Regions from separate parts of the Homo sapiens genome. Here regions 1 and 3 are each reported to be linked to region 2. Evidence: microRNA targets listed by miRTarBase, many of them from high-throughput screens and not tested one by one. Region 2 holds a microRNA gene; each other region holds the end of a gene's coding sequence. Distances are between the middles of the regions.

Region 1 (4,000 bases), not on the chromosome of region 2:
ATATGACTGATTGCCTAAGATTAAATGGTAGACAGTGTATGAAAGGTTTTAGTTGGGTTGGTTTTATTTGGTACTGTGTGTGTGTGAATGTGTGAGAGTTATGTCCTGGTTTTCAAGTATGAATGGCCCAATTTTAGACAGTTATCCTGGGAGATGAAGGAATTACTAGCTGTACCCAGTATCCTCGAATTGAGTCTAATTTATGGATTCTCTCCACAGAAAAATGTACGAGTATAAGCAAAGCATGCTGCATAAAATTTGAGGGAGTTCACAGACATCCCGCCTAGGTTAAGAATCCCCATGCTAGACATCTCTCAGATCTTTGGTAAGTCAGGGTCACATGACCTTCCCAGTATCAAGTCCAACAGGACAGGAGGCAAGTACCTGAGGATGTCATGGTGGCTTAGAACTTGCTGTGCCCTGCCAGGAATAGCACAGATAATCCTGCCTCCTCCTTGAGCCATCACAGTTAGCTGTGAATAAATCCCCACAGAGAAGAGGTAAAGCAGCCTGGATGCAGACCAACCTTCAGTACTAACGATCCTCCTTTCCATCTGCGAGGCAGAAGCACTTCTCACACCTCATTCTTTTCCCATCCATTCTTCATCCTTGCCTGTTTCATTCCCTCCCTCTGCCAAAGATTGAATACGCCTCTTTTTAAACCCTTTCTCAGGGCTAGGGTCTAGGAATACAAATGTGAATAGAACATGGCTCCTCTAATTTATTAAACAAACTTACTGAATATTTACTGAACCCAATGCTCTTTAGTTTTTACAATCTACACCCTAGTGAGGAAACATGCATGTACACACATGGGCACACACCACTGGCCCACAAGCCATTCATGTGTATACAATCATAACGCAACATAAAAGGAGGCTATAATTGAGAGATATGTAAGCAACTATCGAAGCGGAGACTGTCTGCCTGGGAAGGTGAAATTGATTCCTGTTTCCAAAATCAAATAGGAATTTTCCAAGCAGACAAGGGTGGAAGAGGGGACAACATGTGCAAAGCCATTCAGGTGCCAAAGAACATAGTAGTGGCTGAGCCTCAGAAGCATGTGCCAGATCAGCAGGAGTTACAGCATGAAACACAGGGAAAGGCCGAATCCTGGATGTCCTCAATTGCCACATAAACGCATGAGTACTGACATAGAGCTTCTGGAAGGCTCTAGGCAAAAGAATGAAATGACAGATTTTGACTTTAGAAGGCCAACTCTGATGACAGAATGAAAGATGGGTTAGATGAGGACCTAATGAAAAACAGGAAGATCATTTGGGCAGGAGGCTCCTGAGTGGTGCTGGTGAAGGCTAAAAGAGGGTCTAAATTCTAGAGGGGTGGTAGGGAAAGAGAGGAAGGGCAAATATGAGAGATTCAGAAGACAGCATGGGAAGAAACTGGCAAATAATTAAATGGGTGGGAGTGGGGGGTGAGGGAGGAGTCATTAGGATGACTGCCAGTTCCTTCGAGCAACTAGAAATGAAGGCGACCAAATACAAGGTTGCATGGGGGAAGATAACGAGGCCTGAGGGACATGGGGAGTGTGAGGGACTGTAAGATAAATAACTGTTGATGCCCACTCTGGTGACAGGACTGCAGGTCAAATGAACACACACTATTTGTCCATTCCTGGTTCTAAACTCCTCCCTTACCAAATTTGAAATTGAAATCCGTATGTGCATGTTGCCAATCTTCTGTGGAAAAAATAATTCTTTATAAAACTCTCTACAGTGAGACAGATCCTCTTAAATATGAAAAGGCCCACTTGTGTTGTGGGTAACGATGAGAAAATCATCTTCGTGCGAAATTTGCCTTTCTCTTCCCTTACATCATAGCTGACTCCGCCAAGACCACTATGATCAAGTTTTTATTCCTCCTCCAACCCTCCACTGCAACTTTTGGCTGTACAAGACGAATACTTCCATATGGTGCAATGTTTATGTTAAGATGGGGGAAAATGTGAGATGCTTTCAGTAAATTTTATTCAAGAAGTAATAAATTTATACATTCTAAGCAGCTGGAACAAAATATTGGTCTGTAATTGATTCTGAATGAAGTGTTTTTCAAAAGGAACAGAAAACTTGGGGCTATTTGTTAATTACTGATGTTTAGAGATCTTGGGTGCTGTCATGCAGCCCTCTCTGGCTGTGACCTCAGACATATGATTTGACATGTTGAATCTCTTTTGCCTCATCTGGAAAATGGGTTTAGCAATTTTACCTACTCATAGGGTTTTTGTGAGGATTAAATCAGCTAACACAAGTAAAGGGCTTGGGATAGTACTCATTATGTAGCAGACACTCAGCAAATGTTAGTTCTTTTCTTTTTACCTATTACCTATAGTCTGAGTCACAAGAGAAGGGGAATAGGATGAGGATGGGGGTAGGAAGGAAGGACTGAGAAAGTGTATGAGAATGAAGTTTTAAGGATTTATCTATAAAAGAATGCCCACTGCCACCTCAGAATCTGTAGAGACAAGGGAGCTGTGTGAGTACAAGTGATTCTTTAAAAATATTTTTTGGGAAGCAGGTGTGGGTACGTGAAGCCTGTAAAACCAGGAGTTTTCTGATATACTTTTGGGATCATCATGCATTTTTATAATTATTGAAATCACTAGAACAAATGAGAGCAGGAGGGGAGAAGGCAAGTCCTAAAAAACCTGTCTAGAGGGGACTATTTAACATGCAAAAACTACCCCATGTCTGTGTGAAACCAATGCACAGAATTTATTCTATTGATGCATTATTATTTTGGACAAACTGCCAACTTTTGTTTTAGTTTTTTAGTCACTAAAGCACAATGATTTTTTAGAATAATTTTTAATGTCTTCTGTTTAGTCTTTACATTTACAAAGCAATTCTATACCTTTCTAATTTAATACTGATAAAAACCAAGCAAAGTAAATATTAGCCCTATTTTAAAATAGCAAATATTTGGTATACATTTACTGTGTTCCAGGTACTGTACTAAATGCTCTGTGAGGCATGTCCCATTTAATTCTTCTGACGAACCTGCAAAGTACGTACTATTTCATCATCTGAGGCTAGAAAAGAAAAGTTAAATAACTCTCTTAAGATGACCCAGAAGTAAAGAGCAAAGCCAGGACTTGAATCCACATGAGTCTGACTTCAAAGCCCACTCCTAACTCTTAACCACTGTATTCTGCTATTGAAGGATAATGAGATAATGCTCTTTCCCAGTATGGCAATGTATTTGGTTTGAACTCAGCCTAATTAATTACAGTCATGTAAACAACTGTTGTGAAATTATACAGAAACATTAAACTTTTTGATCTCTATTTCTATATTATGTTCCTAGAATTGCTAGAGACAGATGCACATCTTAATGTACATTTTCCTCTCTAAGGTTATGAGAATCTGGACAAGACCAATAATTGTTGAATAAAGTTTCCAAATACCTAAAGTACTTGGTAATAGACTAAGAATCTGTTTCTTGTTTATCTGTAATCAGTTTAATAGTTGCAGGTAAGAAAATTTAAGCACAATTTTAGTGAAGCCTAGCCACCAAACTTTTGACCAGTTCAATAATGCAAAGGACAAAACCTGTTCATAAAAATGAATTTTTAATTTCATGAGCATAAAAAAAAAACCCAAACCTGTCCCATACCCCTCCCACTCATGCAAACAGCTCTCAAATGAGATTCTTCAAATTTTACGTTTTTTCCATTCTGGCTCATTCTTTGCTTCCTCATCATCAGATTCAACTTGGGCAAACATGGTTTTGGGCTGAGTCCTAAAAGAAAAGTTAAAGAAGAGAAGGAAAAATTTAGTCAGAAAGTATTTGTTACATTAGATTTTGCTTCCTTCATCAAGTGGGAGCAAATGTGGGGAATAAATTACAACTCAATTATTAAATATAAATCATTAAACTTCTGGCAAAGAAAAAGATAATGGAAATTTAATTATGTTCAGGAAAAGAGCAAAAGATTCTTTTAAAGATTTACCCTCTGTGGCAGACTGTACATACACACTGTTCT
Region 2 (4,360 bases):
CAAAACAAGAGGTCATCTAATTCAAGGTTCTCATCCTAGGGTTCATTGACATCCCAGGATGGGCTTGGGTGAAGTTGGACATAACACATTTGAATGTGAATTTTGCTAAACAGAAGTTCAGTACCTTTCAAATGTTTTTGTATGGCTATATGCCCCCATCCTTAAGAGTTAGAAAGCACCAATGCTGACCAAACTTTTTACTTTCTAGACAAAGAAAGATTATCCCAATAAACTATGACTTATGCAAAGCATAGGGCCAGTGTATTAGTCTGTTTTCACATTGCTGATAAAGACATAACCAATTCACAAAAGAAAGAGGTTTATTGGACTTACAGCCCCCACGGCTGGGGAGGCCTCACAATCGTGGCAGAAGGCAAGGAGGTGCAAGTCACATCTTACGTGGATGGCAGCAGGCAAAGAGAGAGCTTATGCAGAGAAATTCTGGTTTTTAAAATCATCAGATCTCGTGAGACCTATTCACTATCACGAGAACAACATGGGAAAGACCTGCCCCCATGATTCAATCATCTTCCACTGGGTCCCTCCCACAACACGTGGAAATTATGGAACTACAATATGAGATTTGGGTGGGGACACAGAGACAAGCCACATCAAGCTAGTTAGAGCCAGAACTGAGACATTAATCAAGGATGCCTAATTTTTCTAAGTTACTTTCAGACCAATCTCATTTATTGGTAGTACTTTCTTCCCTGCTTGCATGAGGGTGGGAGACAAATCTTGGCTCTCCAAACAGCCAGACCCCAGACTCTGTGTTTGACCTTGTGCAATAGATTTGTTTCTTTAAGCCTGGATTGGCTGGGCACGGTGGCTCATGCCTGTAATCCCAGCACTTTGGGAGGCCAAGGTGAGTGGATCACCTGAGGTCAGGAGTTCAAGACCAGCCTGCCCAACATGGCAAAACCCCATCTCTACTAAAAATACAAAAAATTAGCCTGGTATGGTGGTGCATGCCTGTAACCCCAGCTACTCAGGAGGCTGAGGCAGGAGAATTGCTTGAACCCAGGAGGCGGAGGTTGCAGTGAGCCGAGATCACACCACTGCACTCCAGCCTGGGTGACAAGAGCCAAACTCTGTCCAAAAATAACAATAATAAAAAAAAGCCTGAGTTTACAAATCTATAGAAGGAAATTTAAAATATGATCTCTGTTCCCATCAAATTTCTTTGTTTCAAGTGATATAAACTAACTATGGCTGATTAGACAGTAGGGAATTTATTGCAAGGGTATGAGAAAGCACGTAGAAAAGGCTTCTTTGTGGCTCAACTCCACAACACTGTATTTTATGTTTATGAAAACATTGGGAAGGCTGAACTACCAGACTCAGAAATGGCATAAAGAAGGGGTGCAGGTAACAGCCTGAGCCACAGCCAAAATGATGCCACAATGTGAGTGAGGTGGAGACTCTATCACTCCACCTGACTGTTGCTGACACTGAATACTGAGGCTTATCTGTTATTGCTACTGAACTTAAACATTTAATGTCACCACCACAGCCTCTGTAAACCCTGGAAGCTGATGTTGAAGCCACCTCTGCAACCATTAAAGGAGAAATAAATTCTCTGCTTTCCTGATTTTTGCATCTCTCAATGCAAATTTAAAGTCTGAGGCAGGTACCTCTGTTTGGCTGAGTATAGGTGATGTGTTCATACCTTAGCTGCAGGGTAGCCTGGGACAAGAATTTTTTTGACTTCCATACTGGGAAATTCAAGCAAAATTCATATTATTAGAAATTTCTCAAATGTAAGAAATGGGTTCAAAGGCTGAACTCAGCCATTCAAAGGCTGAAACCTCTCAAATAAAACTAACATGGATCTACTACTCCATCCCATTAGGTTGGCGTGAGGATTAAATAGATAATAATAGATAGAGTGTCTAGGAAATAATAAGGACTCAATGTTCATTTTCATCATCATTGTATTACTCTTGTAAGAGTCAGCTTATCTTCATGGTATGCCAGTTGTCTGTAATACCTATAGCTGAGAAAAGTGAAATAAGGATTTGAAGTGTTTTTATTTCACATAATGGGAAAATGTAGGGAAAATTAAGGAAATGAGGAGTAATGCCAGAAGAGATGAAAGTGAAAAGACTGACAGACAGAGTCAGATAAGGAAAGTAAATGGGCATTAGATTAGTTGCAGAATTACTGACTCCTGTGAAGGAATGGATTGTCCAGGGAAAAGAAGCTAGCCAAGAAATGGAGACCTGGGAATGAGATCCATGCTACTCCGAGCTCTAATCCTAGGGCTGAATCTCCCAATCTAGGGTGCCCATACAAAAAGAACACAATAATTAAAGACAAATAAGGAATAGAAATATTCTGGGTCTTTTTGGAATTAAAACCTTATAGCTTGCATCTGTTTGGTAGTGGTGATTGTAGTGGTGGTCCTAGTGGTGTGTGTATGTGTGCAAGTTCATTTTGTTTTGTTTTAAACTTACAGAACAGAATTGAGATTTGGATTTTAAGGGAATTTTGATATTTCATTTTGACAGCTCTCCTTCTGACACTTCATTCTTCTTCTTCTCGCACCCAAACACACACAGGCATACAAACCTCTTTGGGATTGGCTGCAGAAACAGTGCCTCCCAGAGTATTCCCATTCATCTCATTTGTGCTTAGCTGACCTCTAATACCTAGAGGAGAACTGTAGTGCAAACATCAAGAAAATAATAATGTAATTCTAGAATAATATCCCTAAGACTTATAAATATGAAGCAAATATAAGAACCCTTTTTTCAGTGGACAAGAATTGCTTGTCTATTCATCACATCCTTTTTTTGTTTGGAAAGTGTCTCCTCTCTCTCTCCATGTTGACTCTAGAAGGACTATAAGCCACATATTCAACTCTGCAAAGGAAGAAGAGGGCTTCACTTCTTCTTACCTCTTCTTCCTTTACAGAATTGGACATGTGATTTACACTGACCAGTCAGTTTACCTTATATGTCTTAATGCCTGTGATTAGTCCAGAGAGAAATACATGAAGTAGGGATAACCAATCCAAACACTGCTTTGGAGTTTGATTGTTGGGATAAAGTCTCTCTTGAGTTCACAAAGCTTCAGGATCATGTATTCATGTGGCAAGCACCAGGATGCTCTCACCACCTTATGGAAAAAGCTTGCCTGAAGCTGAACAAAGGCAAATGGAGCTCAACATACCTCTGAACAATCTGAGCCAACAACTTCTCCTTTTGACTTCAGCTACTTTAAGTTGAGGTTTTATTACTTGGTGTATTAGTCTGTTCTCACACTGCTATAAAGAACTACCTGAGTATGGGTAGTTTATAAAGAGGGATTTAATTGACTCACAGCTCCACAGGTTGTATAGAAGACATGGCAGGGGAGGCCTCAGGAAACTTACAATCATGGAGGCAGGGCAAATGGGAAGCAAGCACATCTTTACATGGCAGCAGGAGAGAGAGAGCAAAGAGGGAAGTGCTACACACTCTTAAACAACCAGATCTCATGATAACTCACTATCACAAGAACAGCATGGGAAAAATCTACCCCCATAATCCAATCACCTCTTACCGGGTCCCTCCCCCAACACTGGGGGTTACAATTCAACATGAGATTTGGGTGGGGACACAGAGCCAAATCATATCACTTGGAAGTTGAGAATTTTATATCTCATACTTCCCCGCCCCAAGAAAAAAATAATTTCATACCCCCTTAGTGATATGAGTTGAACTTTTAGTATGACTTAAGAAAACATACTGACAAAAATGGCCAATAATCTCAGTAAAGCTTTTAAAATATTATTTACTCAGACTCTAGAGAATGCTTGCACAACAAGTAGATTAATAGACACCTAACAATAACTTATTGGTCCCCCCATCCAAGGTTAAAAATCATTGTTTATAAGTGCTTATGCTTTCAAAACAATACTGAGAAAAATGCACTTCTGAGTGTTATCATATTTTGAAGACTATAAACCCTTCATCCACTTTTGAAAAGAGGATGATATTGAAAAAGCCATTTGATAAGCTTTTATATCCAAAGAAACAAAGAAGCAGTTTGCTTCGAAGACTCCAGGGACACAAGGCCACCACCTGTGAGGACACAGGAGCCACCTATGAGCCATGAAAGTTTGGAAACTTGCCTGGGAAGTTCATCAGGGTCACCACCAGAGGAAATCATTGATATTCATGGAGAATTGGATGCTCAGCAGTGCAGTGGCATATAGGTCACACACAAGACAAAAACTGTTTCTGAGGTTTGAATGCAATGCCATTAGTGAGCCGTTACTGATATGTTTGACACTGTATCAGAAAATTTTACCAAAGCTCCCTTTTCTACTAAAAGCAACTGAGGGGAAAAGAAAATGGTAGAAAACCAAAAATAA
Region 3 (4,000 bases), 46 Mb from region 2:
CATATCCCAAGCAAAACCCCTGAGGCAAGCGAGGCAAAAAAATGCTATTTAAAACAGAAGCTGGCTGCACATTGAGAGTGCAGCACGATCTGAGAGAAGATGGCTCGTGCGTTTAGAAAATAACTTGGGAGAGGTCTTAGTAGAAGATCCAGTGAGTCGCCCATGCAATGTACACACACACTCTCCCCCACACCCAGGCCAGACTGTGGGCATGATGTAAAGGGAACGGAAAAAGGAAATAGTGCCCACTGCTCCCCTCCCAGGCAGGGCAAGTGGGAAAGTGGAGAGATGGGGATTAGGCTTTGCGACACAGGACAGCAGGCTGAGGCCCAAGGGGAGGTGGGCAGTCACTGCTTGAGGAAGGGGTGCCCAAGGATGACATTTAAACACCTCCACCTTTTTTACTGTTAGTCTCAAACATGCGGCAGTCTGTTTGATGGCACAGCCCTGCCCTGGGGGTGCCCTGGGGTGGGGGACTCAGAATGGAAGCACAGAGTTGCGAGAGGGCATTAAGAACAAGCAGGGCCAAGAGGTGGGACGGGGTGCAGTTTGATTTGGATATATGGGGACAGGCAGCCCAGGGAGCTGGGGTCTTGGAACCTTGCAGGTCCCATGTGGAGGGTTATTAATATGTTATTAATAAAAGTATTACTATCTGATGGCCAATTCTACAAGTGGGCCCTCCCTGTCCAGTCCAAGAACTGGCAGGAGATAGGCACTGGTATTTTCAGTGTTTGTTGAATGAATAAATGACCTGGAAAACTTTATCTCGGCCTCCAAACCCTTTGGAACACAATGTGTCAGGAAGAATAGAATTCTCCATCCTGCAAAGCCACCTGGAGCCAGCAGTCCCTGCTCCATCAGCAGGTGCAGGGGCGGGGAAGAAACGGTCCCTCCTGCTCTGCAGGGCCCAGGCCATTCCTGGGGTCTGGGGTCTGGGGTCTAGGGTCAGGGGGTGACCTGCACCAGGGACAGAGTGGGCCAGCAGCCTGGACAAGACTGGAAAGCCAGCTATAATAGATGCTCTAGGACACTAAGGACCCCTGCGGTGCAGTGTGCTGCCTCAACCTCCAGGTCTTTCACTGTCATTTTTCCCTACTAGGCACATGGTTTTTTTAGACCTCTGGCACTTAAAGACTGTTGCTAGTGAGTGTACAGAAATCACAGTGAGCAAAGAATAAATAGCAAGCTTTGAGAATCAGTAGGGAGCCCATCATGTCCTTGAGGAAGGGAATGATCCAGTGGAGCCTTAAGGAACAAGGAGTGCTGGGCAGGAGGGCCAAGAGCCCCGGGAGGAGGAAGGCGAGATGCTGAATGCCTGCACAGGGGTTTGGGGGAGGAGGGCAGAGATGGACTCTGTCTTCCACGACAGGAGGGACCAGCATGAATTCTGCTGTTCTGTACCAAGCCAGAGCATTGCCCAGAACCAGGCTCCCACCCCTAGAAGGTGACACGGCTGGACATCGCCAGGCCAAGAAGAGACTCAACCACCACCACAGCAGCTGTTGCCCGAAATGACAAGTACCGTTTATTGTCGTTACACAAATGAACCCAGCCTCTGGCTTGGGCACCGTCCCACGGACCAGCAGATGAGCATGGTCAGCCGACCCCTTTCCCCACCCCCGAGTCATGTGCAGTCATACACTCCAGGCAGAAAGTCGCAGTATCGAATACCGGACACAGGTTCCCTTGGCTTGGTGGTGCATCTCTGATCCACAGACTGGCCCACCTCTCGGAGTGGCCAACGGAGTCGCTGAAACGTTGTCAAATAAGCAAGTAAGTGCAGGAGCCCTGGGCTGGGGGCCTCTGGCCTCTGCAGCCGGGTGGGAGGAGGATGTCCAAGGTGTCTGCGGGGTAGGCCTCGGCTCCACACCTCCGCTGTGACCACAGCCTCAGGTCAAGCTGTGCTGGGGCCATCCACCTTCCTTTGCCATTTAGAAGATGGGGCTTGGAGCTTGGCAACACAGAAATTGACATCAGCCTTATAAAACCTTGGCTGAACCTACCGACCTCCAGGAGAATTTCAGCCAAAACAAAAAAGCAAATACACAGAGGGACCCTGGAACCAGAATCCCTCCCCATGGGAAAGACGAAGGCACAGAGATTCGAGCCAAGTTTCCCAACATGTTGGTGTTTGCAGAAAAGTCCGGTCACGTCACACACAGCACAGAGGCAAGAAGCGAAGGCAGTGGCATTCACAGGACTACTTTATATTAAAGTTTATTACATTTGGAAAATCTACTGTACAGGGAAAAACCCATTGGATTAAGTAGAGTTTTGCCAAAAGCAAAAGACTATCACTCTTTGGAAAATATTCCTGATTCCAGCCCAGGGCCCAGGGTGGGGCCACAGGAGCTAACGGAGAACCTGGCCTTGGATGGAGGCGCTCAGAGCCAGCTCTGCCCAAGACACCCCTCGTCAATTTCCAGGAGGAAGCAGCCCCTGGAGACGGCGCCACAGGCAGGACGGGCGTGGTCTGCAGGAGGATCTCCAGGCCCCTGCCGCCCTCCCTACAGTCCTCTCTGTCTGAAGGCTGAGTCCCAGCATTCACTTCTCACACGGGCTTCTCCAACGTGGCAGCGGCCCAGGCCTCAGCATGGCCCTGAGCGCATGGACACAGGCACGACTGCTTGAAAGAGGCGGCGGCCCCACGGCAGCCTGGACTGGCCAGCCTGCCAACAGACCACCAGAAACGGGGCCACCAGACAGATAGTCCATACCCTGTTGCACACATGAGCGACAAACTCAAGAGACAACACACAAACTAAGCCTACATTTTGGCTTCCAGATTTGGTTCTCCTAGTTTAAAAAAAAAAAAAAAAAGTCTTCTTAACCCTGATGCTGTCTCCCGACCATAGATTAGGGAAGCAAGATGGGGGGATACCGAATCAACTTACTTAACTTACCTCAGAAGTAACAAGGTCTACTGGGCTATGAACAAAGAACTAGAGGAAACATGTGCAAAAACAAGTCGATATCTAGATTAGACCTCCCCACGAAACAAAGTGGACTCCTGTCCCCTGCCACTCAGCGGCCACCCCCCCAAGATGCTTGGTCCTACCAGTAAGTGCTACAGGTGTGTGAGCCCCAAGCCCCACCCGCAGGATCTTCCAGCCACATGAGGCCATTTAGGTCCAAAGCAGTCGGATCCCCCTCCCCTCCAGAGCTGGACCTGGGGAGAGGCTGCTTCAGTTTGGAGAAACCGAGTCAGAATGGTGCGATGCCAGGTGCTGGCTGTGGTGGAAAGGTCCTATGCGAGAAACCCCTGGTGCCCTAAGTCTCCAGGCAGAAGTCAGAGAAGCAGAGTGGAGCTCCCAGCACACCCCACGACTCCGTGGGCAGGAGCGACCAGAGGGGCTGGAATGCTGGGGAGGTGGCCTGGTGGCAGGGGAGGCCAGGGCCTGCAGTTCTTCAAGGAAGAGGCAAGTGGGGGCCTAGTGAGTGGCAGGGCGGAGGGGGCGCATGGCTCCCGCGTCAGGCATAGAATTCCTCCTGTTTGGTGGGCTTCTGGTAGGCCCCGCCGTTGGCTTGTTTCGGCTCCTCCAAGGAGTAGCTGCCTTCGTCCTTCTTCTTCATGCGGTACAGCATGAAACCCACCAGGCACACAGCAAAGATGAGCCCCACGAGGCCTCCGGCAATGACCCCTAGGGCAGGTAGACGGGGCCAGCTCAGCTCAGCGGCTCCTTGGGCTCTGCTGCAGACCCTCCCCAAAGCAGTGGCCTTGGCTGTGGTCAGCCCCACCCTGACCCCACAGCAGCAATTCACCCCAAACTACCCCCCTGAAAGAAAACTCACCTCCCAGCACCTCTTTCCTGTCCAGGAGGCCCTGTGAGGCCCCCGTGGCCCCCTGATCCACTGGGGACTGGTTCCGGCGGTCAGGCTCCACGGCCACTACAGCCGTATTCTCCCCCGAGGTTTCAAAGGTGAAGTCCTGTGGGAGGGCAGGGGCAGATTGGGTTGGCCAGGTCACCGCCAGCAGCAGCAACCAGCTCCACTACAA

Evidence for each region. The annotated mature microRNA hsa-miR-4778-3p reads UCUUCUUCCUUUGCAGAGUUGA and lies in region 2 at 2,859-2,880, opposite strand. An mRNA with a match to its seed (bases 2 to 7 or 8) in the 3' UTR can be bound and repressed. Matches are read on the target gene's strand: a 7mer-m8 pairs with bases 2 to 8, a 7mer-A1 pairs with bases 2 to 7 and ends in A, and an 8mer does both.
Region 1: miRTarBase lists WDR70 as a target of hsa-miR-4778-3p. The part of its 3' UTR that is shown has no 7-base or 8-base seed match.
Region 3: the mRNA of SDC1 is a reported target of hsa-miR-4778-3p. Seed matches in the 3' UTR shown: 7mer-A1 at 2,825-2,831.

The regions. Positions count from the first base shown.
Region 1 is chr5:37,752,242-37,756,241 of GRCh38, reverse strand. WDR70 (WD repeat domain 70) reads right to left here. Exons shown (of 18, transcript NM_018034.4): 18 at 2,807-3,756. The coding sequence ends at 3,669. Among named protein-coding and RNA genes, the nearest start is that of GDNF-AS1, 86 kb to the left of the region's middle.
Region 2 is chr2:66,355,399-66,359,758 of GRCh38, forward strand. It overlaps MIR4778 (microRNA 4778), which reads right to left and starts at 2,930; the gene lies at 2,851-2,930.
Region 3 is chr2:20,199,292-20,203,291 of GRCh38, forward strand. SDC1 (syndecan 1) reads right to left here. Exons shown (of 5, transcript NM_002997.5): 4 at 3,796-3,931; 5 at 1,506-3,644. The coding sequence ends at 3,475. Among named protein-coding and RNA genes, the nearest start is that of SDC1, 24 kb to the right of the region's middle. RefSeq lists an enhancer at 1,681-2,181.